Linked DNA regions of Homo sapiens: all the other regions are linked to region 3. Evidence: fine-mapped expression QTL. A gene starts in region 3. Each other region holds a variant in brackets. All regions are shown on one strand. Distances are from middle to middle.

What was found. PIP is the estimated chance that this variant, and not a neighbour inherited with it, causes the effect.
Region 1: its variant is fine-mapped to the expression of BIRC6 in monocytes (TOPMed, PIP 0.99).
Region 2: its variant is fine-mapped to the expression of BIRC6 in fibroblasts (GTEx, PIP 0.97).

Annotation. Positions count from the first base shown.
Region 1 is chr2:32,876,688-32,887,711 of GRCh38, reverse strand. LOC105374453 (a long non-coding RNA gene) reads left to right here. Exons shown (of 3, transcript XR_939938.2): 3 at 1,697-1,724. Among named protein-coding and RNA genes, the nearest start is that of LINC00486, 57 kb to the right of the region's middle. RefSeq lists a silencer at 1,427-1,627. The variant C/T (reference allele first, on the strand shown) is at 4,906.
Region 2 is chr2:32,608,248-32,616,247 of GRCh38, reverse strand. It overlaps BIRC6 (baculoviral IAP repeat containing 6), which reads right to left. Exons shown (of 74, transcript NM_016252.4): 73 at 4,666-4,800. Among named protein-coding and RNA genes, the nearest start is that of TTC27, 16 kb to the left of the region's middle. The variant T/C (reference allele first, on the strand shown) is at 4,953.
Region 3 is chr2:32,349,295-32,360,166 of GRCh38, reverse strand. It overlaps BIRC6 (baculoviral IAP repeat containing 6), which reads right to left and starts at 3,144. Exons shown (of 74, transcript NM_016252.4): 1 at 2,681-3,144. The coding sequence starts at 3,005. RefSeq lists enhancers at 1,934-2,446, 2,961-3,473 and silencers at 2,698-2,927, 3,088-3,457.

The DNA of each region.
Region 1 (11,024 bases), 530 kb before region 3:
TACAATCATGTATTTCTGTTAGGTGGATTAACATTTATTTTATACTTTGGGTTATCAGCCAATACTACATTATTTACTTTATTGCTCAAGTTGTTCAAGCTTTGGCCATTGGTAACCTTTTCAGTTGGCTCTTGCATCCCTTTGACATACCCCTATCTTTTTACCCCAGCACTTCCTTACTTTCTGGCACTATAGTTTCCTTTTGTATGTTATTAGTGCAGCCCTAGAATCAGCCATTTCTCCAGTGATTCCTGGTTTCTTTTACTAGAGAATGGTATTAGAAACCAAGATCTGGGTGCTAGGGGTGCTCATTACTATTGGGGTGTTGTGGTTTCTAGGCCCTTTTAGCTGACAGAGCAATAAAATGTATGTATCTATACATACTAATCCATGAATCGATACATATCTGCAAATATCTATTTGTAACCATCTGTAGCTATATTAAGCTAAATTCGTGAGTTCATTCTGATGTCTCTAACTCTAATCCAATACCACATGGATCATTCTAACCTTCCTCCCTTAAGAGCACTTCTTGTGAAATGTTATTTCCTGTCCTGGTCACTTCCTCCCTCCTTCCCCTACATCATCCTGAGAGGTGACAACGTGCTAGCAGGCCTCACTCACTCTCAGCACCTCCTCGGCCTCGGCATCCACTCTGGCCATGCTTGAGGAGCCCTTCAGCCTGCTGCTGCACTGTGGGAGACCCTCTCTGGGCTGGCCGAGGCTGGAGCCGGCTCCCTCTGCTTGCAGAGAGGGGTAGAGGGAGAGGCACAGGCGGGAACCAGGGCTGCGTGCAGCACTCACTGGCCAGTGCGAGTTCTGGATGGGCGCGGGCTCAGTGGGCCCGCACTTGAAGCAGCCGGCCGGTGCCGCTGGCCCCAGGCAGTGAGGAGCTTAGCACCCGGGCCAGCAGCTGCGGAGGGTGCGCCAGGTCCCCCAGCACTGCTGGCCGGCCCGCGCCACGCTCAAATTCTTGCTGGGCCTCAGACGCCTTCCTGCGGGGCAGGGCTCGGGACCTGCAGCCCGCCATGCCCAAGCCCCCCTGCAGTGGGTTCCTGCATGGCCCGAGCCTCCCCGACAGGCGCCGCCCCGTGCTCCACCGCGCCTGGTCCCATCAACCGCCCAAGGACTGAGGAGTGCGGGTGCACTGTGTGGGACTGGCAGGCAGCTCCACCCATTGCCCCGGCGCAGCATCCACTAGGGGAAGCCAGCTGGGCTCCTGGGTGGGGTGGGGACTTGGAGAACTTTTATGTCTAGCTAAAGGATTGTAAAGGCACCAATCAGCACTCTGTGTCTAGCTCAAGGTTTGTAAACGCACCAATCAGCACCCTGTGTCTATCTCAAGGTTTGTAAATGCACCAATCAGTGCTCTGTGTCTAGCTAATCTAGTGGGGACTTAGAGAACTTTTACCTCTAGCTAGAGGATTGTAAATACACCCATCAGCACTCTGTGTCTACCTCAGGGATTGTAAACACACCAATCAGCACCCTGTCAAAACGGACTAATCGGCTCTCTGTAAAATGGGCCAATCAGCAGGATGTGGGTGGGGTCAGATAAGGGAATAAAAGCAGGCTGCCCGAGCTAGCAGTGGCAACCTGCTTGGGTCCCCTTCCACAACGTGGAAGCTTTGTTCTTTCGCTCTTTGCAATAAATCTTGCTGCTGCTCACTCTTTGGGTCCACACTGTCTTTATGAGATGTGACACTCACCGTGAAGGTCTGCAGCTTCACTCTTGAGGCCACCGAGACCACGAACCCACCGGGAGGAACGAACAACTCCGGACAGGAGGAACGAGCAACTCCAGACGCGCCGCCTTAGGAGCTGTAACACTCACCGCAAAGGTCTGCAGCTTCACTCCTGAAGCCAGTGAGACCACGAACCCACCAGAAGGAAGAAACTCCGAACACGTCTGAACATCAGAAGGAACATACTCCGGATACACTATCTTTAAGAACTGTAACACTCACCACGAGGGTCCGCAGCTTTATTCTTGAAGTCAGTGAGACCAAGAACCCACAAATTCCAGACACTATCCCACCTAGAAACAGTTTTTATAAGTCCTCCATTTCTGAGCCAATATTGTACGTTTGCTCAATAAAGTCACTCTCCAGCTATGAAGTCTCTGCTTAAAAATTGTGTTAGAATGTGGAAGATCTGCAATGAGAAGCATCGGGTGGCTGCTGTGTTGACTTCTGGCTCTACTATCTGTCTATAAAGTGAGTCTTAACAGGCTTTTAGCTGCTCCATGTGTTAGTTTCTCCACCTGTAAAAGGGGCATATAGTTGACCTGTTCTCTCATTAAGTTTTTGTGGGAATCAATATATTATGGGAATAAAAATAAGTTTGTAAATAAAAAGCACTGAGATAGATAAGGAATTATAGTGACCTTTGGCCAAGTTGTTCCTAATCGCGTGCCTGATGTTGTGAGGAAAGAATAAACAATGTCTCATTTCATCCTCAAAATGAGGTACCTTTTATTATTCCCATTTTACAAGTGAGGAAACTCAGGCTTATAGAAGTCAAAAACTTAGTAAGTGGTAGCAGTGATAATGAACAGTCAACAATTCCTGAGGGCTTACTATGGGCTTGGCACTGTTCTAAGCACTTTACATGTATTGATTCATTTAATTCTCACAACAACCCGATGAAGCAGGTTTCTATTATCCCCATTTTACAGAAGAGGAAATTGAGGCACAGAAAGGATTCTACAGGCTGGGCTTGGTGGCTCATGCCTGTAAATCGCAACAATTTGGGAGGCTGAGGCAGGTTGATCACTTTAGCCAAGGAGTCCAAGATCAGCCTGGGCAATGTGGCAAAACCCCATCTCTAAAAAAATAATAATAATACAGAAAATTAGCCAAGCGTGGTGGTGCATGCCTGTAGTCCCAGCTACCTGGGAGGCTGAGGTGGAAGAATCACCTGAGTCTGGGAGGTCGAGGTTGCAATGAGCTGAGATCACACCACTGCACTCCAGCCTGGGCGACAAGAGTGAGACCCTGTCTCAAAACAAACAAACAAACAAACAACAACAAAAAAGATTCTACAGCTAGTAAATGATATAGTTGGCACTGTAACCCAGATCCCTCTCTGTCTCTTTCTGGGTCTTTTTAAACTATTAAACTGCCCACACCATGACTCATTCATTTGACAGATATTTATTGAGAATATACAGTGTGTTATTCATTGGTCTAATCACTGCAGATCCAGTAGTGAATAAGAAAAAAAAAATCCTGCTGTCATAATGCTTATATTAACAAATATAAAGGTAGGGCATGATGGCATGCGCCTGTAATACTGGCTACTGAGGAGGCTGAAGTGGGAGGATCCCATGAGGCCAAGAGTTGGAGACTGCTGTGAGCTGTAATTGTGCTACTCCACTCCAGTCTGGGCAACAGAATGAAACCCCGTATCTTAAAAAATAAAAATAAAAAGGCTGGGCACAGTGGCCCACACCTATAATCCCAGCACTTGGAGAGTCTGGAGGATTGCTTGAGGCCAGGAGTTCAAGATCAGCCTGGGCAACATGGCAAGACCCCACTGTGATCCCAGCTATTCGGGAGGCTGAGGCAGGAGGATTGCTTGAGCCCAGGAAGTCAAGGCTGCAGTGACCCGAGATGGTTCCACTGCACTCCAGCCTGGGCAACAGAGCGAGAACTTGTGTCAAGGAAAAAATAAAACCAACCAACCAAACAAAAACAAATATAAGGCAATAATGCTATTGCTCTTGCCTTAACTTGGAAAACATGTGTCTCTGCTTAGAGTACCTCTTTCATTTACGATCACTTAAGATTTTGTTTCTTCTTTTAAGGGGTTATGCCAGCAGTAAACTGTGGAGTGCGGTATTGCTCTCACTTGATTTGCTGGTTTGTTTTATCCCAGATGTCGGAAAAAGGTGACTGAAGGTAGGCACGTCCTCCTCAAGAGCTGGGGTTAACCTATTCACAATTATACATTCCTTTCTTACTTTTCTAGTACCTCTCAGTCTTTTCAACCTCTGCTGTCCTCACTGGCAGCTGGTTCCAGCACCTCCTCATTGAGAAGAATCAGTACTCCCTAATGAACATACACATGTCCAGGCAAGGCGGGGCCAAACAGACCACAAGACTCTGTTGTGAGTGGATGTGATGCTCAGAGCTGCTGCAGGATGAAGCCCACAAAGAGAAGAGGACAAATCCAGAAGCCACAGAGAAGTGGAACCAGAAGCCCAGTGTGCCTTGGGTGAAGCACGGCTACTTAAGCATTTGTTACGCAAGATAATAAATCTCCTCTTGGCTTAACCAGTCTGGAGTTGGATCTGCAGTTACTTGCAACTAAAAGCATCCTCACTGATACAGCATTCCAAAGGCCCCTTTGTTCTTAAGAACATGTGTGCCTGGGAATCTCTGCTATAAACTATTCCATTTCCAAGAAGGATTCTTCTACAAGCCAATGAAATTCTCACTCTTTGTGGTCGAATGCCCTCTGTCTGCCCTCTTCTTTTCTTAGCTTTATTTCCTTAAGGGACTACTCAAAGACACTTGGTACGCTGAAATAACTCTAGCATTACCAAAAGCATTTAGTAAAGCTACGTGATGCTGACTGGAGACACTTGAAGAGAAAACAATGCTTTGAATTAAAGCACGTTTTCTAGTGTCGATGAATAACACATAAATAGGACCCACTTAGCCATCTATCCCCACTGTGTTATTCATCTTCCGGCTGCTTTGGTGAGTGCCAAAATGCTTCTGGGAGCTTTCTGAGCACTTCTTTCCTTTCCATTCCTTTCCTGGATTACATTCAAAAGATCTAAAAACAAACAGGCATGTTAATTACTAAGGGTTATTATTTTCTTCAAAGCCTCAAAGCTCTAAAGAATCAACACTATTTATTTTCTGAATTCACTCACCACAGTTTCAAACCAGCCAA[C/T]GTGGAGACAATCTTCAGTACTTGCTGAAAATGTGCTTTCACTGTAAGCTTCAGTGCCCTGGAGCAGTGCTGTGAGATCCTTCTATGAGCTCTAGGCAGCAATTAAGTCTATTTCAAAAGATGTGCAGGTAAGATTGCTTAGGAGTAGGAAGTCCAGTCAATTCCAAAAATAATATAATGTTGAAATTTTCCTTGCTTACCCCAGGAGGAAAATGTTCTCTGCTTTGTCAATTCTATAAATTACATTTTTTCACTTTTGGAATGGTAGGTCCAGAAAGCGCAGAAAATAATAAAAACAATACCCATATAGTAGCCATAATGATTTAACAAGTGCTAACATTTGGCCATATTTGCATCACATGTAATTAATGATGGATATCACTATTTGACTCATAAAATGAATTGTTCCATTAAACTAGTCCCCTTTCCATTTTTCTCTTTAAGAGACATTTATAATTAAGCCTTTAAATTCTGAGCCTTTTGCAACCATGATTTCAGAATAGAAGAGTAGGGGCCAGGAATAGACCATAAATGCTCCAAATGGGACTTCAACAAGCCTTCATTGCTACCTGGAGTTGGGTCATGGCTGGTGAGAGTCTATGTGGGATATTCACATGGGACAGTTAGAAGATATAAATGTTCTGTAAGCACCAAAGTTGTTAGATCTGAATATCTTGAGCTTCATGGAGATTAAAATTCTAAAGTTACTCAGGTCTGTGTTTTGTTGATTTCGTTCAATGCACGCATATTCTGACATTTCATTTTACAATGATCTTCATTTTTATTTTGATTTTTTACTATTTTACAAACTGACATCAACTCTTTATTAAAAAAAAAACCTTTTTTTATAACAAAAAAGATAAGTTTTTTCCATAATAATAAAAAGTTGGAATATAGGCCGGGCACACTGGCTCACGCCTATAATCCCAGCACTTTGGGAGGCCAAGGCGGGTGGTTCACTGAGGTCAGTAGTCTGAGACCAGCCTGGCCATCATGGCGAAACCTCGTCTCTCCTAAAAAAAAAAAAAAAAAAGTATATATATACACAAAAATTGGCCGGGCATGGTGGTGCATGTCTGTAGTCCCAGCTACTTCGGAGGCTGAGGCAGGAGGATCACTTGAACCTGGGAGGTGGAGGTTGCAGTGAGCTGAAATTGCACCACTGCCCTCCAGCTTGGGTGACAGAGCAAGACTCCGTCTCAAAAAAAAAAAAAAAAAGTTGGAATATATACAATGGGTGAGGCTGTCCAAAACCTGCCCCATAAAGTAAGAAAAATTTTGACAATTAACAAAGATTCATTTTTCAAAGGCCTATTAATCATAGATTAATTAAACAATTATCACTCAAAAGGTACCTACAGAATTTTCACCTCAATCTTTTATCGCAAAAACAGTGGAAATCTATAGTCCAGAGACCTTCTTTAATAATGAGCCACTGATAAACACAATATATATATATAATTCATATAACATTTCTTTCATGTTGTAAATTTTTTTCAAGCATTATACAATAATGAATTTGCAACAGGCTTTCAATATTATTTACAATATTTCCTTCCAGTACGAGTTTTCACATGACTTTGAAAGTAATTGTTAAAATTGAGAACTTTTCTGTATTTTCCACACTACTCGGGATCCAGTCAGGTGTGATTCTCCTGTTTATAGGGTCCATCTTGTGTGCATGATCACGCGTCTATGAAAGGATATGGGAAAAGCAAAGGCATTCCCACATCTCATACATTCACAGAGCTTCTCTCCAGAATGAGATATTTTAAGTCAGCAAATGCAACTAAAAGAACTAAATGGGCCAGGCGTGGTGGCTCATGCCTGTAATCCCAGCACTTTGGGAGGCTGAGACGGGTAGATTATCTGAGGTCAGGAGTTTGAGACCAGCCTGACCAATGTGGTGAAACTCCATCTCTAATAAAAATATAAAAATTATCCAGGCATGGTGATATGTGCCTGTAGTCCCAGCTACTTGGGAGGCTGAGACAGGAGAATTGCTTGAACCCGGGAAGCAGGGGTTGCAGTGAGCTGAGATTGTGCCACTGTACTCCAGCCTGGGTGAGAGAGCGAGACTCCGTTTCAAAAAAACAAAATCAAACAAACAAAAGAACTAAATGCCTGACCACATTTCTTATACCGTAAGGCTTTTCTTCAGTGTGAGTCCTTTCACTTTTTCAAATCATGTTTCTTACAGTTATAGGTTTTCTTTCTCCAGTTTGATTGCTTTCATATCTTTGAGGAAAACTGGGAAAATTAAATATTTTCCCATATTGCTTACATTTGTAGTTTTTCTCCACTATGAGTTCTTTCATGTTTGCAATGGTAACTGGAACAGCCTAAAGCTTTACCACATTTTTTTTTATACTTTAAGTTCTAGGGTACATGGGCACAACGTGCAGGTTTGTTACATATGTATACATGTGCCATGTTGGTGTGCTGCACCCATAAACTTGTCATTTACATTAGGCATTTCTCCTAATGCTACCCCTCCCCCCTCCCCCACCCCATGACAGGCCCTGGTGTGTGATGTTCCCCATCCTGTGTCCAAGTGTTCTCATTGTTCAATTCCCACCTTTGAGTGAGAACATGCGGTGTTTGATTTCCTGTCCTTGCGATAGTTTGCTCAGAATGATGGTTTCCGGCTTCATCCGTGTCCCTACAAAGGACATGAGCTCATCCTTTTTTATGGCTGCATAGTATTCCATGGTGTATATGTGCCACATTTTCTTAATCCAGTCTATCATTGACGGACATTTGGGTTGGTTCCAAGTCTTTGCTATTGTGAATAGTGCCGCAATTAACATACGTGTGCATGTGTCTTTATAGCAGCATGATTTATAATCCTTTGGGTATATACCCAGTAATGGGATGGTTGGGTCAAATGGTATTTCTAGTTCTAGATCCTTGAGGAATCGCCACACTGTCTTCCACAATGGTTGAACTAGTTTACACTCCCACAACTGTGTAAAAGTGTTCCTATTTCTCCACTTCCTCTCTAGCACCTGTTGTTTCCTGACTTTTTAATGATTGCCATTCTAACTGGTGTGAGATGGTATCTCATTTTTGTTTTGATTTGCATTTCTCTGATGGCCAGTGAGTTTTTCTCCAGGATGATTTGGATCTTCATTTTAAATGATATTTATACACAGTTTGAATTGCAGAAATTTAAAACGAAACTATCTCTTCTCCTACATAATTAACCCACACAGTCACATCTAATCATTGCAGGGCTTAAACGACTTTTTCCAAATATGAACATAATAAAGTCCCCACAGCTCCCATGCCAGTCATATAGTCCTGTTGAAATGTTTTAGGGCATTTATAGATTTCTGTTGCTTTTCTCTGGTTTACAATCATCCTAGAATAAAAGCAAAGTTCAAAAGAGGGTAAAGTACAATATGTTGACAGATACAGGCATTCCTAACAAGAGCTGGTCTCTGTAATAGTCTACATGCCTAGCCAGAAGAATGCAAACCAACAATTGCTTATTGATCCCAGCAAAATCGTGCATCTTTCTCTCTTTGGGCATACATATTGTATCTTGGAGAAGCTCGAAAAATCAGAAATCGAGTTATGGAAATAGATAATGGTGATGGTTAAACAATACCATGAAAGTGCTTAATGCCAGTGAGTTGTACAGTTAAAAGTGGCAAAAATGGTAAATGTTATGTATATTTTACCACAATAAAAAATTCTTTAGATTAGAAACATTAAAATATCTAAAGAATAGTTGAATAGTAGGTCAAGTGAAGTTTTAAAAAAACTAACCATTTATATGGCTTTTGGGCAAACAGCACTTTCGGAGTTGACAAGGTCAAGTTTCCAAGTACCATGGGTAGTTCTATTTCTCAGACACTCTGTGGATTGAGGCTGCCTCATGCTTTTTGCTTTCTCCACCAGGAAAAGAGCAAGCTATCTGATGATTAAAACAGTCAGTGATTCCAAATTTACAATATGGTTTTCCTCTGCCTCTGGACAGGACCCTCTCTGCTATCTTCTCCTGTCTGGCCATCTCCAGTCAGTCATCTGGTCTCCTAAGTCCACATGGCATTATTTGATATTAAGATATACAATTTTAATCTGTGTTAATTCATCCTTGTTTACTTTGAAATGCTTTTTCCTACTGGCATATTGTGTAGATTGGGTAACTGTGGAAAAGCCTTAATAAACTGTATGTGGATTTTGTTAAACATTTAGCATCTGTTTTCCAAAATCCACTAGTGAAGGACTCAGAAAAGCTAATAAGGTGACCAGTTCATTTTATGACAGGGTCCTGTCACCTAAGAACTGTGTGCCGTATGTGCCCCAGAAATAGCTGACTCTAACCAAATAGAAAAACAAGCCATCCGCATTTTTTCTTGCCATGGCCTTAGTTTACAACCAGCCAATATATGATGAAAGTTTATGCTCCTTTTCCACGTAAGTTATTTTTCCAACTAAAAATTGTTCCCAGCTGTTCTGACCCAGATGTGTTGGCAGTCCGTACTGTGAGGGCCTTTATACAGGTGATGAAGTCCTCAGACAATAAAGTTTACACGACTTGTATACAGCTGGTCTCCAATACAACTTTGGACCTACAACACCCTTTCCCCCACCAGAAAAAAGCAGCGGTTTCCTGACACTTCACTCGGGGCACAGTTCAAAGGGGATTTCAGTGCTGTAGGCCCAAACTTGTGTAGGCCCTGGACTTAGGAAGGAAAAGTAAGACAAATTACCCAGTTTTCCTCTTCCCCTGGAGAATTCAGCCTGCTGTAACTGAAAATAGCTCCAGCAAGAAAATGACCAGAAATTGTCCCTGGGATTTGGCTTCCAGGAGAGGTTAGCTGGGATATCTGAACGCGCCCACTGAGTTGCCATCTGTCTTTTAGCTTCACATTGTCTCATTTTTAACTGCAGCCTCACCCTTTCCTTTACATTTAAATGAAAGGTCATTTTTAGTACATAGAGGTTGTGTGTAAAATCAGTGCAAGATGATGTTTCATCAGGAAGTTGTAGGATAAGCAGAGCAATGGATCACAATTGGGGTGACTGTACATCCAGGTTTTCTCAAGACAATCCCAGGCAGTTGACGTCTATCGGGCACTTCATTGTTAGAAAAACATTAAAACAGTGGAATTCGACAAGCTGGGATGGGTTTAGTAGCCCTCTCCTTGGCATTCTCAGTTGCCAGCAGTCTTGAACAATAGTGATGAGACCTGTGCAATAAACTGAGTTCTCACTGTAACTCCTGATAAAAATCTAAGGAAGACCAGCTATAATACCCTTCTCTCTTTTCTCAACCATTCCCTGATAAGGTGCAATTAACACGGTCTCTGAAAGACAGCTGGACAAATTACAGTGTGTCCAGTTACAAGTTTCCAGGGACTCAGTGGCGTTGGGAGATGTACTGACCCTGCTGCCAGCCACCTTTCACTAGTGCCTGCTGTAGCCTGGGAGGTCCATGAAGCTGCCTGGCCACATGTCAGCAGGGTCAGTGGGAAATGTGCGAAAGTATAGTTTAGGTGAAGTGAAATATGTGCAGGAAAGGGAGGCTGAGTAGCCCATCACAGAGCACAGAAACCGTAGTTTGAATGTTCTTGTGTACAGTGGTTTTGTCACTTACTTTATAATTTATCTACAACCTTTATTTATTGCATTGTTTGGTAACATACATTTCTTTTGCAATAAACCCCTTGGCAGCAATCAATCAGCTTGAAAAGGTCAAAGCACATTTTTAGTGAAAAATTAAAATATTAGGTTGTAGATGAATGTGTAACTTGCAAAAAATATTTGTTGATATCTAGCATCCACTGCTGGGATGTCATAATGATAACACTGGTCACCTGAAAACCAGAAAACGCGAATTTTCTGAAGAAGCATCAGAATTTACTTCAAAAGTCAGTAGTTACCTTAAGTAGATCATGCCCAAAGATTATTATAACACACACAGCTGCATGAGGTGTGTTTTTATATTATTCTGCGAAGCTTAATTTTTCACATAGATGCAATAACTGTTCTAAAATAATTTCATTCATTTTCCACTCCCAATTTTCTGGTGCATGCCTGAAACATTAAGTATTAGCTGCAAATGAGTCTCCTTTAGCAGAATGAGTACTGTGTAAACAGTGACATGA
Region 2 (8,000 bases), 260 kb before region 3:
ATCATTAGAACTTTTTAAAAAATTAAGTTAAAAAGAAGATCATAGAATTTTAAAAAATTAAGTTAAAAAGATCATAGAAGAACAAAGAACTGCACCCAGCCTATCATTAGAACTTTTTACAAAATTGAGTTAAAAAGAAGATCTATAGAGATTAAATAAACTTTGCTTTGCTCTATATTGCAGTTTACGTAAGGATATAGGCATGTTAATTGGGAGTGGCTGGTTGTCTAACACATGCAAAGATTTGGTTCATAATTTTCTGGTGAGAGAGAAATGACCTTAAATAATCACACCAAAGGCTTTTAAAATTGTGTCGGCCGGGTCTGATGCCTCACGCCTGTAATCCCAGCACTTTCGGAGGCCATGGCGGGCAGATCACGAGGTCAAAAGATCGAGACCATCCTGGCCAACATGGTGAAACCCCGTCTCTACAAAAAATACAAAAATTAGCTGGGTGTGGTGGTGTGTGCCTGTAGTCCCAGGTACTTGGGAGGCTGAGGCAGGAGCATCGCTTGAACCAGGGAGGCAGAGGTTCCAGTGAGCTGAGATCGCACAGCACTGCACTCCAGCCTGGCAGCAGAGCGAGACTCCATCTCAAAAATAAAATAAAATAAAATAAATAAAAACTAAATAGTGTCAACAGCTGACTTTGAAAATTAAACAACATTTATTTACAGAACAATTTTTATGTATGAGGCACTGTGTTAAATACCAACAACATAAAGGCAATGAGTAGAATGAGGATAAAATCTTTAAGCTTATGGAGTCTAAAATTCTGGCTGAAATTATAAGACACATAAATAGGAAAAAACAACTCTACCTTGCAGCTATTTGCAAAGTTTCAAAGCACATTTACATGCCGGTAAGTGAGAATTTCCCTAGCCTTGATTTTCCTTCCACTGTGGACAACAGGTGAAATCACTAACCAGGGAAGGAGAAAGAAAAATCTGGCAATCATGAGAACTGAGTTAAGGTTGGGGATTGATCTAGTTTGGATATTTGTCCCTGCCCAAATCTCATGTTGAAATGTAATCCCTGTGTTGGAGGTGAGAGAAATGGGGATCATGGGGACAGTTTCCTCATGGATTGGTGCTGTCCTGAGATAGTGAGTGAATTATCACGAGATCGGGTTGTTGTAAAGTGTGGCACCTCCCACACCCCTACGCCTTCGTGATTCCGCTTCATCTTCCACCATGAGTATAAGGTCCTTGAGGCCTCTACAGAAGCAGAGTAAATGCCAGTTCCATGCTTCCTGTACAGCCTACAGAACCATGGGCCCATTGAATGTCTTTTTGTTATAAATTACCCAGTCTCAAGGATTTCTTTATAGCAAAGAAAGAACAGCCTAATACAGGGATACTATGATTTTATTGTGGAGTCAAGCTAAACAACTACATACTTTTCATTTATTTTTTAAGACAGAATTTTACACTCGTTGCCCAGGCTGGAGAGCAATGGCGCAATCTCAGCTCACTGCAACCTCCACCTCCCGGGTTCAGGCGATTTTCCTGCCTCAGCCTCCCCAGCAGCTGGGACTACAGGCATGAGCCACCACACTTGACTAATTTTTGTATTTTCTTTTAATAGAGTTGGGGTTTCACCATGTTGGCCAGGCTGGTCTTGAACTCCTGACCACAAGTGATCTGCCCGCCTTGGCCTCCCAAAGTGTTGGGATTATAGGCGTGAGTCACTGCGCCTGGCCAATTGTGTATTTTTCTTGTGTAGCACTCAACAGCAAATGTACAGTTAAAATGATATAAATTTGGATTAATTCAGAGATGGAAAATTCCAGGTGACAGTGACACAGAAGAAATAAAGGAATGCGGATATAAGCAAGACACTGAATGAAAAGAAGCTGGACTTGAGCCAGTTTTGTGTAAGTGAAAAACATATCTAAATACATATTTGGGGAAGATCAGCCTGGTAATGCACTAAAGAAGGAACTGAAAGGGGGAGAACCTGGTACAAGGAAGCTGGACAAACAGACAAAGCTGTGGGAACTCAACAGAAATCATGGGTTGGGGAGAGGACAGTCCCCTCATGAAGTAATACTGACAGGACCTAGTACTGACCAGGGGTGCTGGATGAAGGATGAGATACATAATACTTGAAGATTCTAAGACAGAGAAAAATGGTTTAAAATCAAGTAAAATTAAGTAAATAGAAAGCTAGAAAACTTGATTTGAGGAAAATCTCCTTTAAGGAGATGATGACAGGGTATCTATGTAAAAAATGTCAGTAATACAACTCAAGAGAAAGCTAACAGCTGACAACAGTTTGAAGTGTCACTTTTAGAGAGTAAATGGCCAAAGTCAGGGTTACAGACACAATGAAGGAAAAACAGAAAGACAGAAAAAAAATAGTTCTGAAGGCCAAAAAGTAAGCCTTCAGGTAAACAATTGCTCAGGAAAAAAGAAAAAGGAAAACACACTGAAAGAATTAAGAAGAGTATAAGCAGAAAAGCCAAGATAGTCTACAGATGAAAAGTATAGTACAAAAGACAAACATTAGACAAATGTTATGAGTGTTTTAACAGGTAGACGCAGAGGGTTAGAAATGCTTATACTGAAATGATCTAATAGTCTATCAGTCAGGCGGGGCGCGGTGGCTCACTTGAGGTCAGGAGTTCAAGACCAGCCTGGAGTTCGAGACCAGCCTGGCCAACATGGTGAAACCCCGTCTCTACTAAAAATGCAAAAATTAGCTGGGCATGATGGCAGGTGACTGTAATCCCAGATACTCAGGAGGCTGAGGCAGGAGAATAGCTTGAACCCAGGAGGTTAAGGCTGCAGTGAGCTGAGATCAAGCCACTGCACTCCAGGCTGAGCAACAGAGCAAGATTACATCTAAAATAAATAAATAAATAAAATAAATAATGAAAATAAAAATACAAAAGTTAGCCAGGTCTGGTGGCAGATGCCTGTAATCCCAGCTACTCAGGAGGCTGAGGCAGATAAATCACTTGAACAAGGGAGGCGGAAGATGCAGTGAGCCAAGATCATGCCTGAGTGGCAGAGAGAGACAGTGTCTCAGAAACAAACAAACAAACAAACAAACAAACCAGTCAAGGCAGGGTTCCATGAAGTGAAATTTAAGCTGAAATATGAATGGAGGTGAGCAAGCAGAAGAGCTGAAAAGTAGAGGAAAATGGAAACCATGTGTAAAGGCCTGGAGGAGGGAGAGCAGATGAAGTGAATGGAGAAGTGAGCCAGGGTCACTGGCGTTGAGAACTGGAGAGATGGTAACTTTGGTAAAATAGAAGTCAAACTGCATAAGGTTGATTAGTGAGACAAAGGTTAAAAAATGGAGGCAAGAAGTGTCAACTGCTATAGTCTGACGGTGAAAGAAGACAATCTGTTTCATAATAATAGGGGCAAAATAGAACTAGCTTAGGGAAATTTTCTGCAAGTGTTTTTCTCTCTTTTTCAAAACATTTTTATAGTGAAAAAATTCAAACATATGCAGAAGTGGGCAGAAGAGTACAATGAAGTCCCATGAATCTATCACACAGCTTCAACCATTATCAACTCATGGCCCATCTTCTTTCATCTATATTCCCACACTTTCCCCTTGTCATTTTATTTTGAAGTAATTCCCAGACATCATACACTTTGTCATTCACAAATATTTCTGTACATGTCCTGAAAAGATAGGGATCTTTTTAAAAATCACACCTAAAAAACTAACAAATCCTTATCATCAACTAGTTGTTTGAAGTGAAGACAGCTTTAAAGTTAGAAGATAACAAGCCAGTAGAAATGGAAAAACCTGAAGATAGAAAAGGGAGGATATTGGTGGAGGATGAAATGAGTAAAGACATTCAGATGCAGGAAAAAAGGAAGGCTGTTACAAAGAAAGATCTCCGTGGGTAGACAGAAAATCTTCCAAACCAATCACATTTCACATTTCCATTCTATGAACGTCCAAACTGAAAACAACTGCTTTCTCCCCTAACACAGCCACTGCCACCATCAGCTGAGGGAGAATCTGCAACTCAAATCTCCCTCATCACTCCAAGTAATAAAATTCTGGAAGGCAGGAGGCCTAGGGAAAGACTAAGGGAATAAAAGAAGTCCTTCAAGTCTGGCACGGTTGCTCATGCCTATAATTCCAGTGATTTGGGTGGCTGAGGTGGGAGGATCACTTGAGCCTAGCCTAGGAAACAGGGTGAGACCCCATCTCTACAAAATTGAAAATAAAAAAATTTAACTGGGCACTGTGGCAGCTACCTGTAGTCCTAGCTACATGGGAAGCTGAGGTGGGAGGACTGCTTGAGCCCAGGAGTTCAAGGTTACAGAGAGTCATGATGCCACCACTGCACTCTAGGCTGGGACAACAGAATGAAATCCAGTCTCAAAAGAAAAAAAGAAAAAGGAAAAGGCATTCATGGAGCACATCTTGTCATCATTATCTTCAAGGAACTTTACAAAACTCTGTTGTCTCAGTCCTTGGACCCACTTTTTATTTTAGGAACTGTCAATCTACTACCAAAAAAAAATGTATCTTTTCTATAGACTTCTGAGTAACAATTTATTCCTCTGAACTGAAAATACATATTATGTTTCTTTAATTCCCTCCCTCCCATTATCTTCTGGTAGGCATGGTTCTGTCAATAATTACACAACTCTTAAAGCAACAAGGCTCCTGTTAGAGAGGCTTACTCACCTTGAGAGCTGCTGCATGGTGAGACATAGTCCTGCCTACCCGCTTATCACTGCTGTACTGCTGGATATCCGCAATCCACTCCTCACATTGGGCCATTATCTCAACTCTTTTCAAGTAAAAATGTTTGTGTATTACCTTGAGAAAAAGTAAACAGGAGAACAAGCAGTGTTTACAGTCAAATTTAAAAGACACAGTAAATGACATTACAAAGAAGTAAAATGTATTATAAATACATTTAAATAATTTATTCTATAAATACATTTAAATTAATATTTAGAATATTATTA[T/C]AAATACATTTAATGAAATAAATATACAGACACTGCAATGTTTTTCTATCCATAAAACTCAATTTGGGAGGCTGAGGCAAGAGAATGGCGTGAACCCGGGAGGTGGAGCTTGCAGTGAGCCAAGGTCGCGCCACTGCACTCCAGCCTGGGCGACAGAGCAAGCCTCCATCTCAAACAAAAAAAAAAAGGCAATTTAATCAACTCTACAATATTAGCAGGGAAAAATCAAGCTCATGATTTGATATGACGTGTTGAAATATATGAAATTTATGGCCCGGTGTGGTGGCTCACGCCTGTAATCCCAGCATTCTGGGAGATCAAGGCAGGCGAATCACAAGGTCAGAACTAAAAATACAAAAATTAGCCAGGCATGGTGGCAGGCACCTGTAGTGCCAGCTACTTGGGAGGCTGAGGCAGGACAATTGCTTGAACCCAGGAGGCAGAGGTTGCAGTGAACTGAGATCCCGCCACTGCACTCCAGCCTGGGCGACAGAGCAAGACTCCATCAAAAAGAAAAGAAAAGAAGAGAGGAGGGGAGGAGAGAAAAGAGAAAACAAATTTATAGCAGAAAAGAGTGTACAATTGTGGTCAGACACTTGGAAAATTAATCCTGTCCAGAGACCACAAGACACATATGATACAATATACTCAGAAGGCAAATGCTAAATAAGTAACCAGGCGAAAAGATTTAAAAAGTATTGACAACAGAGAAATTTCTGCCTTTAAAAGATAACTCAAAGAACACCTAGATAAGTATATTCTAAATGCCAAAGGCATTCACACAGAAATCCCCAGAAATGGCACTATTCTTACTTGCTTAATTTTATCTTCTGTTTAATTTATAGATGGGATTTTATTTTAGGAAGTTAAATTTCCTTATTATTACTGTGATTTACATTTGCGATTTTTAAATTCTATCTTTCAATTCTATCTTTGAAAAACTGAGTAAAATTTCTACCAACATATAGTAGTAAGAGTCTATTTCTGACAAATTTAAATTAGAAAACAATTATCAATTTGGAAACATTGCTCTGTATTCTGGTTGAGCATTGCCCAGGGAGCATGTCTGCCCTAAAGAACAGACAATCAAACCTATAAAGGGAAAATCACTAGAAAGCTCTGGGAATGAATGTCAAACACCAATACGATCCCACCACATTTAATAGTTATTGGGTTTGAAGCCTCTGGGATACAGAAGTAAGTATGACACAGCTTTAAATGAAGAACAGTGGTAACAACAGAATCAGATGGGACGGGAGTGTACCAAAAAAATATATTTTAAAGAACAACAATAAACAAAAGCAAAAAGCCCAGGGCATTCAAAGAGTAGCGAGTGGCATTTGATTAGGAAAACTGGGAAAGCATACATGGCCAAGGAGTGGCCCCTTTAACGCAAGCTAGGTTCTAAAGAATGAGAAAGTTGATTGTCTCAAATTATACATATTTGCTTTTTGTAAAAGTCATCCCCTTCTCTGAGTTCCCTGTGTTTATCCTTCCTGAAAAAAATGATATGCATAAAACAAATTACTTTTTTTTTTTTTTTTTTGAGACAGAGTCTCACCGTGCTGCCCAGGCTGGAGTGCCGTGGCGCGATCTTTGCAAAAGTAAAGTATCCAACTTTGTCATTCAAAGGACACTGGAATATAAATTTACTCAGTAACAGCAAAAGCCAAAGAAAAAGAAATATTCATCAGTGCTATCTGATGAAGGAGGTGGCTTCATAGTATTCATGTAGAACATCTGCATAGTTATATTAAAGATCAATTTTATATCAGGTAAATATACCATTTTTTCCTCTAAAATGTTAACTTTCCAGCACAATTTAAGAAATTAATGATCAAGTGAAACAATTTTAAGAAAGAAAAATGTTTCTGGACACAATCACAGCAAGTTGTGATGCTAACGTCATTTGATATGGCAGGTGAAAAGTATAATTCTATTTAGGTATACTATGGAGAGACAACTAATCACAGGCAAAAAGCTACACACACACACACACACACACACACAGAGCCACACTTCAGGATGACGTGAAAAAAACCACTTCAGTGTATTAATACAGGTTTTGGAAACTCATATCATCCAATTTTTTTCCTAAAGAAAAGGAAACGTGGCCAGGCGCAGTGGCTCACGCCTGTAATTCCAACAGTCTGGAAGGCCGAGGCGGGCGGATCACCTGAGGTCAGGCATTCGAGACCAGCCTGGCCAACATGGTGAAAACTGGCCTCTACTAAAAAATACAAAAAAAATTAGCCAGTTGCGGTGGTATGCGCACACAGTCCCAGCTACTCGGGAGGCTGAGGCATGAGAATCACTTGAACCGGGGAGGCGGAGGGTGCAGTAAGCCGAGATTCCGCCACTGTATTCCAGCACAGGCAACAGAGCCAAGTCCTATCTCAAAAAAATAAAAAAAAGAAATGGCATTCTCCTTATATATACACATTAGAATAAGGGCAAAATTTCTATTTGCAAGACAACTTTAGAAACCATCTTCAATAAAAAACAGTTCAATGAGAAATATATCAGAAACATATTTAGAGAGTTTGCTAGTAGAAGGGTAACTAATAAAAATAAAGAATAGGCCGGGGCGGTGGCTCACGCTTGTAATCCCAGCACTTTGGGAGGCCAAGGCAGGTGGATCACCTGAGGTCAGGAGTTCAAGATCAGCCTGGCCAACATGGTGAAACCCCGTCTCTACTAAAAATACAAAAAAATTAGCCAGGCGTGGTGCCACATGCCCGTAATCCCAGCTACTTGGGAGGCTGAGGCAGGAGAATAGCTTGAACTTGGGAGGTGGAGGTTGCAGTGAGCCAAGATCATGCCATTGCACTCCAGCCTGGGCAACGAGAACGAAACGGGATGGGACAGGAGGAAAGGAAAGGAGAGCAGAGGGAGAGGAGAGGAAAAGGAAAGGAAAGGAAAAAAACTTCTCAAAAATTTAGTCAGATGTCTTTTAGAATATAGATAGTTTTATACTTCATCTGTACTATCTACTACCATTTTTTTTTTTTCTGAGACTCTGTCACCTAGGCTGGAGTGCAGTCATGT
Region 3 (10,872 bases):
ATCACCTAGTCTTTATCCCCTCAGACACAGATGTCTTTCCTCTGTGGTAGAAAAGAAAGTGGCCCATTGCCCATAAACGGGAAAGAGGGATTATGTTAGGACCATGATCGCTACTGGCATCTTCTCTCTACTCTATTTATAGGGCTGTCACCCTCTATTAATCATTAAAAGCAAACTTACTAAATACCTGCAGATTCTAAGTAAAACATAAAATGCAGCATTCCCTCCTCAATCATCTGAACTGGGGCAAATAGGACCCTATACAACCTCTGATAATTATTATTAATAACAAACTTCTGGCCAGGTGGGACAGCTCATGCCTGTAATACCAGCACTTTGGGAGGCTGAGGTGGGAGGATCATTTGAGGCCGGAAGTTCAAGACCAGCCTGGGCAACACAGCAAAACCCCATCTCTACAAATACGAATAAATTTTACAAATAATAATAAATTTCACTTCTCATATATGAAAATGTTTCAGAATGCATCCATTGTTAACTTCCAAATTTTTTCTGTAATCCTTCATTCCGTTCACTATAAACCCTTCTACATATTTTAATTCACATACTCAATCTTCATGCATGGGGACCTGCAATTGTATCCAATCCCGAACTCTTCTAATCAACAGATGCCCCAACAAAACCTGTTATCCCAAATCAATGCTACATTTTACTTATCTACCTACACCTTCATGTTATACATCTAAAACCCTCCTCTTTAGTAATCTACCACTAAAGTGAATATTGTCTTTCCTTCCATGTACAGGCACATAAATATATGTCCAATTTCCCCAACCAACAAATCCTGACACACATTATTATTCTCAAACATGGCCTCCAGACATAAAAAGCACACCATAAAATTCCTCTTTCTATCCAAAACACTTGAATACTTTTGTTAATGACTTTCTTTAGAAATCCTAGTACATATACCACTTATTCCAAGTTAAAAATCACAAAAATACTACATCCTCAAGATAGAAACATATACTAGAAAGTGTAGACATATATGAAAAGGATAAAATCAAATTAAAGATAACGTTTATGAAGAGGGAGGATTGGAGAAATGCAGTCCAGGAGAGATTCAGCTGAGATTTTAATCCTATTTGTAAAGTTTTATTTCTTAACCTGAGTTGGGGATGCATGGTGTTCACTGTAATTACTCTTCATACCTTTTCATACTTGAAATACTTTTAAATGACTTTTAAAAAGAAAGACATCCAATTACCAATGAGCATCTCCCTCTTACACACAGTGAGAAGCCATTATGTCCAAGTTGCAGTAACTGTTCACTGCTACATCTGGGCCACCCCATCATTTACCTAAGCCAAGAAAAGAAAAAATTACAAACCTACCTCCCAAAACTTTCTCTTAGATATGTTCCAAGTTTATATCCTGAAACTATACATAATCCAATTCTTTCACAACTCTCACATCAACAATAATTAACATGTCTAATTTCACGTTTGCATCCCTAAATTGCCATTTACTCTTACAAATGCCTTATTACTCACATAGTAAACTTTTCCTTGTTCGTCTACGTTAAAATACAAGTGAATTGGTTGACCACATAACTACTTCCACTTGGCTAAACGCAGACAGTTGTATACATTACATCTCTATGCAGGAGTCCGATTCACTCATACACTAACTTTTCAATCTAAACCTACAACATCCAAATTAAGCCACCCATCATTTAACCACAAATGAAATGTCATCTCCGCCAAATCTAACTCAGCCAGGGCCATTCCAAAACCACTCCAGTCCGTCCACTGAGCATACACCTCACGCATCTGAAAGTCCCGTCCCTGGACCAAGGTTTACGCCACCCAGAAGTGCTCTCCTCCAATGGTGAGACTCAGACACACCTTCAAATCCTAATTTTCGGCTCGCTGTGGGAAAACAAGTAGAGACAGCCTGAAGTTACAAACCCAAAGGAATCTATTTCATACACCACAGGTCCTGACTTTCTCGTCACTGGGGCGTAGAAGTTGGAAGCCCCGAGCAAGGGGACCAGGTCTAGTCGTCTTCGGCGTCCGCAGAGTCCTACAGTCGTCGACCAAGCAGTTCAGGCAGCTGGCCCGCCTACTTCCCTCCCCACCCCCACCACGACCCACCCCACCCCCACCCCACCCCCACCCCCACGCTGGGCGCACAGCCCGCGGTCTGTCCCCCGCACTGCGGGACCTGAGAACAGCAGACTGCCGGCTCCTCTCCCACAAGGGAGGGCTTGGTTGCCGGCTCAGACGCTCCCCGCCCCTCGCCTCCGGCCACCAGCCTCTCCGCCCGGGGTCAACCCTTCCAGCCTTTCGCTCTCATCTAACCGGACGCAGGACCGACAGCCTCTCCAGGGCCTACCCGGGCCTCGCTTCCTCCGGTGCCAAGCTCCAAGGTCTCCTCACCTCTCGCGGAGGACCAAGCCAGACCGGACGCTCCAGGCCCGAAAGGCAACTCCCCTCCCACCACTCCCTGACTCGCCGGTCTTTCCTCCCAACTGCAGCCGCTGAAAAAGCCAAGTCCTAAGGTCCCCCTCCATCAGCTTCCGGGCCTCCCTTCACGGCTGGGCCCGAACCCCCAGCCCTGCCCTCTCGCCATCTCGCTTCCCCGAGTCGCGAGGCCGAGCCCCGGGGCTGGACGGCTTCTTTCCCCGGCTTCGCGCCCGCCCGGCGTGCGGAAGACTCACCACTGAGCGCGGAGGCCTGCAGTGTGGCCCCCGAGGTGCCGTCGATGACTTTGATGGTCCCGCGGCTAGTGACGGCCAGGATGGCGTTGAGCGCAGGGTGGTAGGACAGGCTGTGCAGCCCGTCGGCGTCGCAGTGCATGCAGCCGTCCCGCAGCACCAGCCACTCTGAGACCCCGGCCGCCCCCGCCCCCGCCGCCGAGGAGCAGCCGGGGCCCGAGGCCGCCGCAGCCGCAGCCGCCATCTTCCGGCCTGCGCTCAGCACAATCACACTGGGAAGCGGCTCAGTGACAGTCCCGGGAGGTGCAGCACCACCACCAGTCACCATCCGGGGCCAGGGGGCAAGCCGAGCGCGTTAGCCGGAAGTGAAGTCAGGCGCCCGCACGCACGCGGAACGTCGATCGCCCGGCCGGAGGGGCCAAACTCGGAGGGAGGCTGACGGGAGAGGGGGAGAAGCAGGGAGGGAGGCGGGGCCCGGGGCGCGGGCTGGAGGCCGGCGGGTGGAGCATGCGCGGGAGGGCTCGCGCGTGCCACGCGCCGCGGGTCTGGCCAGTTCCGCGTCCGCAGCGTCCCAGTTTCTTCCTGTGAGCCTGGGGAGTGGCGGCTGCCGAGTCCGCCCCGCTCCTCGCGGGGGCAGGGGGAGGGGTTGGCCTCCGTGCATTTCCGCTAGGTGGGGACCCCCGCCCTTGCGACCTGTCCGGTACGCCCGGAGGCCTTTTGCAGCGGTTCCAGCTGCGCCTTGACCGTTCCCGGTACGCACGGTGCAGCTGTTCGGCCGTGGCCGGAAGCGGACCTCTGGGTCTCGGTCACGGCTCTGGTGTGAGAATAAACAATCAGAAGCCTCTCGTTTGGATTGGAAGGAACCGAGCGACCTTCCCAAACCTGTACCTTTTACCACGCCTGCCCTCCCCATTCCCAAGGCTTTCTGTTGAACAGAAGTACCAGATACGAGGTGCTGGAAGCGCATAGTTAAGCTTAGTTTCTCTATCCACATTCCAAACAACCCGAGTTACCGGAATTAATAGGAGTGTGGGTCTGTGTGAGTGTGTGGTGGGGTGTGTTGGAGGTCTAGAAAGGACTAATCAATTTACTAATCATCCCCCCTTGGAGAATTTTTTTAAAACTTTTTATTTTGAAATAGATTACAGTTGAAAATATACTACAGACCTCTGTGGTCTTTCTCTCCAAAAGCCATAACCCCTATCTAACTATGAGAAAACCATTTGACAAACCCAAACTGTAGGACATTATTTTTATAAAATACCTAAACACTACTCAAAGATAGTACAGAGAGATCCAATTTACTCTTTACCCAGTTTCCCCCAATGGTTGCATATTACATAATTCTAGTACAATCTCAAAAGGAGGGATTTGATAGTTGTATGATGTGTGTATAGTTCAATGTCATTTTATCACATGTAGACCTACGCACCATAGTCAAGATGCAGAGTTGTATGTTCTATATGTTTTGTGATCATTAGGTTATTTTGGAAAGAACTAGTTTTCCTTAAAAACCTAATCAAAGATCTGTTGTGAGGATTAAGAATCATTTGTAAAATGTGTAGAAGAGCATCTGACAAGTATATACTACGTGCTCAATAAAAATTATAAAAGTTAATTGCCCTCTCACATTCATGCGAACTTCCTTCAGGAAATCTTCATGGATTACCTGAACTACATCTTAAACTATTAGCCATCAGGCTACATCTGAAACACTTAGAGATTTGACTGTATTCCTCTCTTCTTGGGGGTCCCTAAAATACACTGAAGTTCCTGGGCCTGCCAGAGAGTGACATTCCTTACTCATCTGTGGTTCTTTTTTTTTTTTTTTTTTGGCTTTTTTGTTTGTTTTTGTTTGTTTATTGAGACGGAGTCTCACTCCGTCGCCCAGGCTGGAGTGCAGTGGCGTGATCTCAGCTCACTACAACTTCTGCCTCTTGGATTCAAGCAATTCTCGGCCTCAGCCTCCTGAATAGCTGGGATTACAGGCACCTGCCACCACGCCTGGCTAATTTTTTTTTTTTTTTTTTTTTGTATTTTTAGTAGAGATGGGGTTTCACCATCTTGGCCAGGTTGGTATTGAACTCCTGATCTCGTGATCCACCTGCCTCGGCCTCCCAAAGTGCTGGGATTACAGGTGTGAGCCCCCGCGCCCGGCCACTCAGGCCACTCACCTGTAAGTCTGGGAACAATCAGGCCAGTTTTTCAAACGAAGACTTTATTGGCTCCATAAAGTCAACCATAGCTCCTTAATGCCATCTGGTCATGTTTGAAAATATGACATTCCAGTCAAAACCTGGTTAATACAACCAGTGCCTCCAATTATGTCTTGTTACAGGAGAACACATTTTTATAGAAATTATGCAAATAACTATATTGCCATAAAAATAGGAATACTTGGCCGGGTGCGGTGACTCATACCTGTAATCCTAGCACTTTGACTAGCCTGGCCAACATAGTGAAAGCCCATCTCTACTAAAAATAGAAAAAAATGAGCCGGGCCTGGTGGCGGGCACCTGTAGTCCCAGCTACTAGGGAGGCAGAGGCAGGAGAATCACTTGAACCCTGAAGGCGGAGGTTGCAGTGAGCAGAGATCGTGCCACTGCACTCCAGCCTGGGCGACAGAGCGACAATCTGCCTCAGAAAAAAAAAAAAAAAAGAAAATGGGACAAGTTGAGTTTACCTACTTAGTAAGGGCTAAAGCTTTTTACCAATATTTGTGGAAAATTCTTTTTACTTTTTTTTTTATTTGCCCTGTTTCAAAACAGTCTCATTTTTTTCTCTCTTTTCAGCCTCAAGTGATTGATTTGGAGGGTCCTCTCAGTCCCTTCAGAGCCCCCAGTGGAGGGTAGGGAGCCTAAAGTGCAAGTGACTGTGGGGCTGGAGTGAGAAGGGAAAGGATCTGGCAGTGGTGGACAAAGTTGGCAAAGGTTATAATCAGTAGGGATTTCTGGTTTCAGAGAAGAAGGGTTTCAGGTGACAGAATTTCCCATGGGAGAAGCAAGATCCAATAGAGAGAATACAGAGGCTTCACAGAGAGCCAGAAAGAACATCCAGCCCAGAAGGTACCTTTCAAAAGAAGCCTGGGACTGTAACACAGTTTCAGAGAATATACTTTTCTTTCCTTTTTTTTTTGAGACGAAGTCCCGCTCAGTCGCCCAGGCTGGAGTGCAGTGGCGCGATCGCGGATCACTGCAGGCTCCGCCTCCCGGGTTCACGCTATTCTCCTGCCTCAGCCTCCCGAGTAGCTGGGATTATAGGCACCAGCCACTACGCCCGGCTAATTTTTTGTATTTTTAGTAGAAATGGGGTTTCACTGTGTTAGCCAGGATGGTCTCGATCTCCTGATCTCGTGATCCACCCGCCTCGGCCTCCCAAAGTGCTGGGATTACAGGCGTGAGCCACCGCGCCCGGCGTTTTTTTTCCTTATTTTAAGAGACAGCGTCTTACCGTGTCACCTAGGCCAGAGTCAGTGGCATGATCATAGCTCACTGCAGCCTCAAACTCCTGGGCTCAAGCGATCCTCCTGCCTCAGCCTCCTAAGTAGCTGGAATTACAGGTGCAAGCCACCAAACCCAGCCAGAGTATACTGATACCTTAAGAATCCACATCTGTTCTTACCAGCTTTGGCAGACATTTGTCTTGAGCAATGGTTCAGGAATCTGATTCACCAAGGAACAATGTAGGGGGTCAGTAGATAGAAAATTACTAAGAGGAAACCTCAGGGGTAAGTGAAACTCTGGCCAAATCAATCTAACAGGATTCTTGCTGAAGACAGGCCACAGTGATCAGACATCACCTGGGAGATGGTGGAGGATGAGGAGCCTGATCAGATATGGAGGAAGAGGGGTTCTTGCTAAACTGACTTAGCTCAGTTTTCTGCTAAAACTAGACTTTACAAGGAAGTGCACGGATGGACCTAGCAGAAGATTCAGAAGTCTGACTAAAGTTTGGCCAAAGAATCTTTGTCATAGTAAAGTCTGGATGAATATCTGATTTTCATAACTGTAGCATCATTGATCACCTCTATGAACTTGGGCTAGTCATACATTTTGAGACTGTTTCACCAAGTGTCAAACGGAGATGATAAAATTTCTTGCCCTAGTCATTTAGGTTTGTTCTAAGTACTTCTGAAAGTACTTGTAAATGGTAAAAATTGAAAAACAGGGCCAGACACGGTGGCTCACGCCTGTAATCACAGCACTTTGGGAGGTTGAGGCGGGCGGATTACTTAAGGTCAGATGTTTGAGACCAGCCTGGTCAAAATGGTGAAACTCTGTCTCTACTGAAAATACAAAATAGGCCGGGCACGGTGGCTCACGCCTGTAATCTCAGCACTTTGGGAGGCCAAGGCAGGCGGATCACGAGGTCAAGAGATCAAGACTATCCTGGCCAACATGGTGAAACCCTGTCTCTACCAAAACTACAAAAAATTAGCTGGGCATGGTGGCACGTGCCTGTAGTCCCAGCTACTCTGGAGGCTGAGGCAGGAGAATAGCTTGAACTTGAGGCAGAGGTTGCAGTGAGCCGACATTGTACCACTGCACTCCAGCCTGGCCACAGAGCAAGACTCTGTCTGAAAAAAAAAAGAAGAAAATACAAAATAATTAGCCAGAAATGGTGGCAGGCACCTGTAATCCCAGCTACTGGGGAGACTGAGGCAGAAGAAACGCTTGAACCCGGGAGGTGGAGGTTGCAAGGAGCCAAGATCGCGCCACTGCACTCCAGCCTGGGGGACAGAGCAGGACTCCAGCTCAAATAAATAAATAAATATTGAAACACAGAGAGGTGAAATGGCTTCTCCATCGTCTCACGGTTTCTGGGGCTGGGGTAGAAATAACCTGGATTTTGAGCTCCAGCAGTTTGATTCGAGAACTTGTACTTCCAACTTAACCCTCTTGTTCAAAACTTCAGGGCCTTGAGGTGAAAGACTGTAAATAATCAAATCTAAATATAAGTGGGGTGTCGTTTTAAAACAGTTTTTAAAATCTTTAGGATAGGCCGGGCGTGGTGGCTCACGTCTGTAATCCCAGAACTTTGGGAGACTAAGGCAGGCGGATCACCTGAGGTCAGGAGTTCAAGACCAGCCTGACCAATATGGTGAAATCCCATCTCTACTAAAAATACAAAAATTAGCTGGGTGTGGTGGCACATGCCTGTAATCCCAGCTCCTCGGGAGGCTGAGGCGGGAGAATCGCTTGAACCCAGGAGGCAGAGGTTGCAGTGAGCCATGATCGCCCCACTGCACGCAAGCCTGGGTGACAGAGGAGACTCTGTCTCCAAAATAAAAATAAATAAAATCTTTAGGATATAGTCGGGCACGGAGGCTCATGCCTGTAATCCCAGCACTTTGGGAGGCCGAGACAGGCAGATCACGAGGTCAGCAGCTTGAGACCATCCTGGCTAACACGGTGAAACCCCATCTCTACTAAAAATACAAAAAAATTAGCCGGGCGTGGTGGCAGGTGCCTGTAGTCCCAGCTACTCAGGAGGCTGAGGCAGGAGAATGGTGTGAACCTGGGAGGTGGAGCTTGCAGTGACCCGAGATTGCGCCACTGCACTCCAGCCTGGGCGACAGAGCAAAACTATGTCTCAAAAAAAAAAAAAAAATCTTTAGGATATAAGTAGAGGCCAGACACGGTGGCTCACACCCATAATTCAAGCACTCTGGGAGGCTGAGGCAGGTGAATCACCTGAGGTCAGGAGTTCAAGACCAGCCTGGCCAACACGGCAAAACCCCGTCTCTACTAAAAATACAAAACTTAGCTGGGTTCAGTGGTTTGTATTTTTAGTAGACACCCCGTCTCTACTAAAAACACAAAAATTAGCTGGGCACCTGTAATCCCAGCTACTTGGGAGAGTAAGGCATGAGAATCGTTTGAACCCAGGAGGCAGAGGTTGCAATGAGCCGAGATCGCCCCACTGCACTTCAGCCTGGGAAACAGAGCAAGACTCTGTCTCAAAAAATAGATATAAAATAATAATAATAATAATAATAATAATAATAATAGGATATAAGTAGAAACCATAAAAACTGCCATTTCAAAGTTTTAATCTCTCAGTATCTCATCTAGCCAATCTTTTTCTTTAATCTGAAAGATTCCCCCGAATAGCCGGGCTCGGTGGCTCACGCCTGTAATCCCAGCACTTTAAGAGGCCAAAGCGAGTGGAGGTGAGGAGTTCCAGACCATCCTGACCATCGTGAAAACCTGTCTCTATTAAAATACAAAAATTAGCCAGGCATGGTGGTGCATGCCTGTAATCCCAGCTACTCAGGAGGCTGAGGCAGGAGAATCACTTGAACCTGGGAGGCGAATGCTGCAGTGAACCAAGACAGTGCCATTGCACTCCAGCCTGGGCAATAGAGTGAGACTCCATCAAAAAAAAAAAAAAGATTCCCCTGAATAAGTCTCCAATGCAATTCAAGCCCCTCATTTTAATTTGTTTCTATTTTTTAAATTAATTTTTCTATTTATTTATTTATTTATTTATTTATTTATTTATTTATTTATTTATTTTGAGATGGAGTGTCACTTTGTTGCCCAGGCTGGAGTGCACTGGCATAATCTCAGCTCCCCTTCTGGGTTCAGGTGATTCTCCTGCCTCAGCCTCCAGAGTAGCAGGGATTATAAGCTCGTGCCACCATGCCTGCTGATTGTTTTGTTTTGTTTTGTTTCGTTTTGTTTTGTTTTGTTTCGAGACGGAGTCTCGCTCTGTTGCCAGGCTGGAGTGCAGCGGCACGATCTCAGCTCACTGCAACCTCCACCGTCCAGGTTCAAGCGATTCTCCTGCCTCAGCCTCCCTAGTAGCTGGGACTACAGGCGCACCACCACACCCAGCTAAGTTTTGTATTTTTTTTTAGTAGAGACGGAGTTTCACCATGTTGGCCAGGATGGTCTCCATCTCTTGACCTCATGATCCGCCTGCCTCAGCCTCCCAAAGTGCTGGGATTATAGGCGTGAGCCACCATGCCTGGCCTGATTTTTGTAATTTTAGTAGAGACGGGGTTTCACCACATTGGCCAGGCTGGTCTCGAACTCCAGACCTCAGGTGATCCACCCGCCTCGGCCTCCCATAGTGCTGTGATTACAGGCGTAAGCCACCGCACCCAGCCTATTTTTATTTTTATTTTTTGAAACAGGGTCTTAGCCAGGTGCTGTGGCTCACACCTGTAATCCCAGCACTTTGGGAAGCCAAGGCGGGTGGATCACCTGAACTCAGGAGTTTGAGACCAGCCTGGGCCTACAAACACTTTAATTCAAGGAATCTGAGCCTGGGTCCTGAATCTCTTAACTGTAGTCTTTAAGGTCTCAGCAAGTTTTCAAACAGAAATACATATTCGTGGCCGGGCGTGGTGGCTCACGCCTGTAATCCCAGCACTTTGGGAGGCCAGGGTGGGCGGATCACGAGGTCAGGAGATGGAGACCATCCTGGCTAACACGGTGAAACCCCGTCTCTACTAAAAAATACAAAAAATTAGCCAGGCGTGGTGGCGGGCACCTATACTCCCAGCTACTCAGGAGGCTGAGGCAGGAGAATGGCATGAACCCAGAAGGCGGAGCTTGCAGTGAGCAGAGATCATGCCACTGCACTCCAGCCTGGGTGATAGAGCCAGACTCTGTCTCAAATATAAATAGATAAATAAAATTTTAAAAAATTAAAAAAATAGAGTGTTTGTAAAGGCCAGGCGTGGTGACTCACACCTGTAACCCCAGCACTTTGGGAGGCCAAGGCAGGAGGATCACTTGAGGTCAGGAGTTTAAGACCAGCTTGGGCAACATAGCGAGACCCTGTCTCTACAATAAAAAATTATTTGGACATGGTGGTGCGTGCCTGTAGTCCCAGCTACTCAGGAGGCTGAGGTGGGAGGATCGTTTGAGCCTGGGAGGTTGAGGCTTCAGGGAAATGTGGTCATGCTACTGCACTTCAGCCTGGTGGCAGAGTGAGACCCTGCCTCAAAAAAATAAAAAATAAATGATTGTAAACATAGAATTGGGGAAGACTGGGTGAAATTCACCATCAGCTGTGTTGTTGATATCTTGTTGCACGTGGTTTTGACAGCAAATACCCTCAACATTGAGAAATGTACTGATTTTCATGACTAGTCTATTTTGAAGTGATGGCCTTTTAAGGGACCACAGCCAAACCATTTTGGGCAGAGGTGGTGAGCACCTTAAGGGAAGTAGAAATTCCTT